Regions from separate parts of the Homo sapiens genome. Here region 1 is linked to region 2. Evidence: fine-mapped expression QTL. Tissue or cell type: whole blood. Region 2 holds a variant in brackets; the other region holds the start of a gene. All regions are shown on one strand. Distances are between the middles of the regions. Region 1 holds the start of MDS2 (myelodysplastic syndrome 2 translocation associated). Region 2 has its middle 15 kb from the start of MDS2.

Region 1 (2,917 bases), 15 kb before region 2:
TATGAACTGATCTAAATACTTCTTGAAGCCACTAGTATTTTTAGCCAGTACCCCCTCTGTGTGAAGCAAAACTTCCCTTTACTGGTCTTAAATTTACTTCTTTCGAGTTTCAAGGGGAGCCCCCTTCTGCCTCCTATCTTAGGGTTAGTGGCCCAATGCGAGATCTCTAGTAAAGGTTTTCACAGAGTGGGTGGGAGGAGGGTCTCCCAGTTTATACCTTACCTGCTCTGTGATGTTTCACCACCTGTAAAATGAAAATAATGAGAGTGGCCACCTCAAGAGGCTTTGATGATGAAATGGGACACAGCTTGGCAGCAGGGAGTAATCAATATAGGCTAGCTTCCATGCAGATGACAATTATGGTGATCAGGAGGAGGATGATAATGATAGGGATGATGGTGATGGTGATGATGATGGTGATGATGGGGATGATGGTGATGGTGATGATGGTGATGTTGATGGTGATGGTGATGATGGTGATGGGGATGATGATGATGGTGATGGTGATGGTGATGATGATGGGGATGATGATGATGGTGATGTTGGGGATGATGATGATGGTGGTGATGGTGATGATGATGGGGATGATGATGATGGTGATGATGATGATGGGGATGATGATGGTGGGGATGATGGTGATGGGGATGATGGTGATGGGGATGATGATGATGGGGATGATGGTGATGATGGGGATGATGATGGTGGGGATGATGGTGATGGGGATGATGGTGATGGGGATGATGATGATGGGGATGATGGTGATGGTGATGATGATGATGGGGATGATGATGATGGGGATGATGATGGGGATGATGAGGATTCTGTTGTGTGATATTGGGGGAGTCAGTGAATGACATTTTCCATGTCTGTCAAATAAGGGTGTTGGACCAAATGATCTGTGAAGGTCCATCGAGGTCTGATGTTCTAGAATTTTCTAGTTTAAGTGCTCTCTTCCTCCTTTCAGCCTGGGTTACCCTCTTCCCTGCAATTTTGGTGCTCCCTAGTGATGTGTGATGAGAGATGGAGTATTATAGTAGAGACAAAACTGATGTGGAGTCAGGAGGCCCGAGGTTCCAGCGGCACCATTTATAGTGGAGTCTTCATCATGGTGCATTTAACTTACACACATTTTTTTTTTCTCTTTGAGACAGGGTCTTGCTCTGTCACCCAGGCTGGGGTGCAATGGCGTGATCTCGGCTCACTGCAACCTCCACCTCCTGGGCTCAAGTGATTCTCATGCCTCAGCCTCCCAAGTAGCTGCGGTTATAGATGTGCACCACCACGCCCGGCTAATTTTTGTATTTTTCACAGAGACGGTGTTTCACCAGGTTGCCCAGGCTGGTCTCGAACTCCCGGCCTCAAGTGATCTGCCCACCTTGGCCTCCCAAAGTGCTGGGATTACGGGCGTGAGCCACTGCACCCAGCCTAATTTACACACATTTAAACACGCGTGTAAAGGGAGGGGAGAGAGAGAGAGAGCACGTTGTGCATGAATCACTGCTACAGAGTCACACTCCAATTCCACTTGGTGAGCACTCACCCCTTGAGAGGGAATGTGACCTGCCAGGTTCCCCCCGCCGGTCCAAGTTCCTGCACTTCCAGCCTCATGTGGGCTCTCATCATGCTGAGTGTGATCCTGCTGTTCAAATGGTTTTTATGTGGTGTGGCCCCAGATACAAGCCAACCATTTCACCTGTGGTGAGCGGAAGGCGCAGCTATCTATAACACCTGAGAAAAAAAGAACCTGCTGTACTAGCTGTCAGCTGCTGGAGACCTTGCTTTCTGTTTCACTGGGAAACAGAAGCAATCAGAAGGAAACTTCCTCAGACTCCACCTCTCCCTTCACTCCCGCCTGTATCCGTGCCTGTTACCTGGACGCCTTGTGGAACTTGAATTCTACGCCCTCCACTGGGACACTGCCCTTCATCCTCTCTCACCTCCTCCAGGACAACAGTGAGCAATTCCTTGCGTCTCTCCCACAGCTCCAGGGGTCCCCCTCTTCTGCTGGCTCATTCACATCACCACACAATCGGCTGCAGTTCTTCCAATTGTACACACACACACACACATGCACAAGCCCATGCACACACACCCCCACACCCACACCGTCATATTTCTTTGCTCCCCCTTCCAGGAAAACATCTCAGTGTTTTCTGAATTGACCATCTTCATCCCTCCTTCCTTTTCTCTCTCCAGCTCTCTCTGTGGGGCTTTCACCCCCATCGCTCCACTGAAACTGCTCTTGTCAAGGTCATCGATGACCTCCCGCTGACAAACTCAACTGTCCCATCTCTACACCCCAAACTGACCCATCAGGAATAGCATGAGCTCCACCTTCCAAAGCTTCCGCAATCTCACCGTCTCCACCGTTACTACCTGTGTCCGAGGCACCACTGTTTCTTGCCTGGAGTTGTGTAAGAGCCTCTCAGTGACGTTCCCTGCTTTCTTTCTTTTTTTTTTTTTTTTTTTTTGAGACGGAGTCTTGCTGTCGCCCAGGCTGGAGTGCCGTGGCGCCATCTCCTCTCACTGCAAGCTCCGCCTCCCGGGTTCACGACATTCTCTTGCCTCAGCCTCCCGCGTAGCTGGGAATACAGGCGCCCGCCACCTCGCCCGGCTAATTTTTTGTATTTTTAGTAGAGACGGGGTTTCACCGTGTTAGCCAGGATGGTCTCGATCTCCTGACCTCGTGATCCGCCCACCTCGGCCTCCCAAAGTGCTGGATTACAGGCGTGAGCCACCGCGCCCGGCCAATTTTTTTTTTTTAGACGGAGTCTCGCTCTGTTGCCCAGGCTGGAGGGCAGCTCGCTCCAAGCTCCGCCTCCTGGGTTCACACCATTCTCCTGCCTCAGCCTCCCGAGTAGCTGGGACTACAGGCGCCCACCACCACGCCTGGCTAATTTTTTTTATTTTTATTTTT
Region 2 (2,917 bases):
TTTGTGGTATTTTGTTATAGCAGTCCTAGCTGACTAAAAAATACTGTCTCCTATAACCCATGAGTTTTGTTTCAAAGCACTTAACACAATCTATAGTTATACATCTACCTATGCAATTTATCTTTTTAAATTTTATTTTGTTTTATTATTTTTGGGGGATGGAGTCTCACTCAGTCACCCAGGCTGGAGTGCAGTGGCATGATCTCGGCTCACTGCAACTTTCGCCTCCTGAGTTCAAGCAATTCTCCTGTCTCAGCCTCTGAGTAGCTGGGATTATAGGTGTGTACCACCACGCCTGGCTAATTTTTGTATTTTTATTAGAGACGGGGTTTCACCATGTTGGCCAGGTTGCTCTCAAACTCCTAACCTCAAGTGATCCAGCTGCCTTGGCCTCCCAAAGTCCTGGGATTACAGGCATGAGCCACCGCACCTGGCCTGTGCAATTTATCTTTTTAAGTTTTTCCTGAAGTATAACAAACACAAAAACACACAAATCCTGTGTACAGCTCAATATACCTTCACAAAATGAACCCATCTGCATAACCTGCCTCTAGGTCAAGAAGTGAACATAACCAGCTCCCCAGAAGCCTCCTTGTGACGCCTCCTCATCGCTACCTCTCCCTGGAGGTAGCTATCATATAATTATTCATTTAGTTATCAATGTGGGTGTCATGTGTGTCCTCTATGGATTATTTTCTTAGGGCTGCTGTAACAAATTACTACAGCCTTGGTAGCTGAAAGCAACAGAAACTTATTCTCATGGTTCTTCCAGAAGTCTGAAATCAAGGTGGGCTGGGCGCGGTGGCTTATACCTATAATCCCAGCACTTTGGGAGGCTGAGGTGGGAGGATTGCTTGAGCCCAGGAGTTTGAGACCAGCCTGGGCAACATGGTGAAACACCATCTCTACGAAAAAATACAAAAAATAGCCAGCCTGTAGTCCCAACTACTTGGGGGGCTGAGGCAGGAGGATTGCTTGAGTCCGGGAGGTGGAGGTTGCAATGCGCTGAGATCACGCCACTGTACTCCAGCCTGGGTGATGGAGGGTCTAAGGGAAGATCCATTCCATGCCTTTCTCCTAACTTTTGGTGGCTGCTGGCAAAATCCTTGGCATTTTGTGGAGTGCCCCTGCCCTCCAGTCTCTGCTTCTGTCTTCACAAGGCCTTTTCGTCTGTGTCTCTGTGCACTCTTCTGTCTCTTATCAAGACACTCTCATTGGATTTCAGGCCCACCCTAATCCAGCATGATTTTATTTTGATACTTATCTTAATTACACCTGCAAAGACCCTGTTTTCTTTTTCTTTTTTTTTCTTTTCTTTTTTTTTTTTTTGAGATGGAGTCTCACTCTGTCGCCCAGGCTGGAGTGCAGTGGCACTATCTCGGCTCACTGCAAGCTCTGCCTCCCGGGTTCAGGCCATTCTCCTGCCTCAGCCTCCCAAGTAGCTGGGACTACAGGCGCCCGCCACCACGCCTGGCTAATTTTTTTGTATTTTTAGTAGAGACGGGGTTTCACCGTGTTGGCCAGGATGGTCTCGATCTCCTGACCTCGTGATCCACCCACCTCGGCCTCCCAAAGTGCTGGGATTACAGGCGTGAGCCACCACGTCCGGCCAACCCTGTTTTCAAGTAAGGTCATATTCTGAAGTTCTAGGTGGACATGCATTTTTGGGAGACACGCTTTCACCCACCGTACCCTACAAGATTGCAAGCCCCAGGAGGACAAGTGGTGTCACTCATCTTTGGATCCCCAGAACGAGCCTAGCCTCAGAACCTAGCCTGGCAGATAGGAGCTGCTCACAAAATGTGGGCTGAA[TA/T]GATGAATTATCAGTACATCTTCACATCAGGAGAACCAATGCTGTGTACCTGACACATGGTGGGTAGTGAGTAATTGATTGACAAGTGAATGACATTTAGACATCAATTGAGAGTGACTGCAGAGTATAGAAATAATGATAGGATGGCTGGGCGTGATGGCCATGCCTGTAATCCCAGGACTTTGGGAGGCTAAGGCAGGTGGATCACTTGAGGTCAGGAGTTCAAGACCAGCCTGGCCAACATGGTGAAGCCCTATCTCTACTAAAAATACAAAAATTAGCCAGGCATGGTGGCACATGCCTGTAATCCCAGCTACTTGGGAGGCTGATGCAGGAGAATCACTTGAACCTGCGAGGCAGAGGTTGCAGTGAGCCGAGATCATGCCATTGCACTCCAGCCTGTGCAATGAGCAAAACTCTGTCTAATAAATAAATAAATAATGATAAGATGGCCAGGCACGGTGGCTCATGCCTGTAATCCCAGCACTTTGAGAGGCCGAGGCAGGTGGATCACTTGAGGTCAGGAGTTCAAGACCAGCCTGGCCAACATGGTGAAACCTCATCTCTATTAAAAACACAGAAATTAGCCTGATGTCATGGCAGGTGCCTGTTTCCAGCTACTTAGGAGGCTGAGGCAAGAGAATGTCTTGAACCTGGGAAGCTGAGGTTGCAGTGAGCAGAGATCATGCCACTGCACTCCAGTGTGGGTGACAGAGCAAGACTATCTCAAAAAAAAAAAAAAAAGGCCGGGCGTGGTGGCTTATGCCTGTAATCCCAGCACTTTGGGAGGCCAAGGCTGGCAGATCACCTGAGGTCAGGAGTTCGAGATCAGCCTGGGCAACATGGTGGAACCCCGTCTCTACAAAAAACACAAAAAATTAGCTGGGCGTGGTGGCACGTACCTGTAGTCCCAGCTACTCAGGAGTCTGAGACATGAGAATTACTTGAACCGGGGAGGCGGAGGTTGCAGTGAGCCGAGATCATGCCACTGCACTCTAGCCTGGGCAACAGAGTGAGACTCCATCTCAAAAAAATAAAAATAAAAATAAAAAAATAAAAAGAAATAATGAAGGTGCTGCTCACTGAGCACTTACTTTGGCCCCC

What was found. PIP is the estimated chance that this variant, and not a neighbour inherited with it, causes the effect.
Region 1: MDS2 starts here. The variant in region 2 is the best candidate, but not a certain one, in a credible set for the expression of MDS2 in whole blood (TOPMed, PIP 0.67).

Annotation. Positions count from the first base shown.
Region 1 is chr1:23,625,585-23,628,501 of GRCh38, forward strand. It overlaps MDS2 (myelodysplastic syndrome 2 translocation associated), which reads left to right and starts at 1,750. Exons shown (of 6, transcript NR_167910.1): 1 at 1,750-1,953; 2 at 2,197-2,414. RefSeq lists an enhancer at 204-323.
Region 2 is chr1:23,640,574-23,643,490 of GRCh38, forward strand. No RefSeq gene overlaps it. Among named protein-coding and RNA genes, the nearest start is that of MDS2, 15 kb to the left of the region's middle. The variant TA/T (reference allele first, on the strand shown) is at 1,813.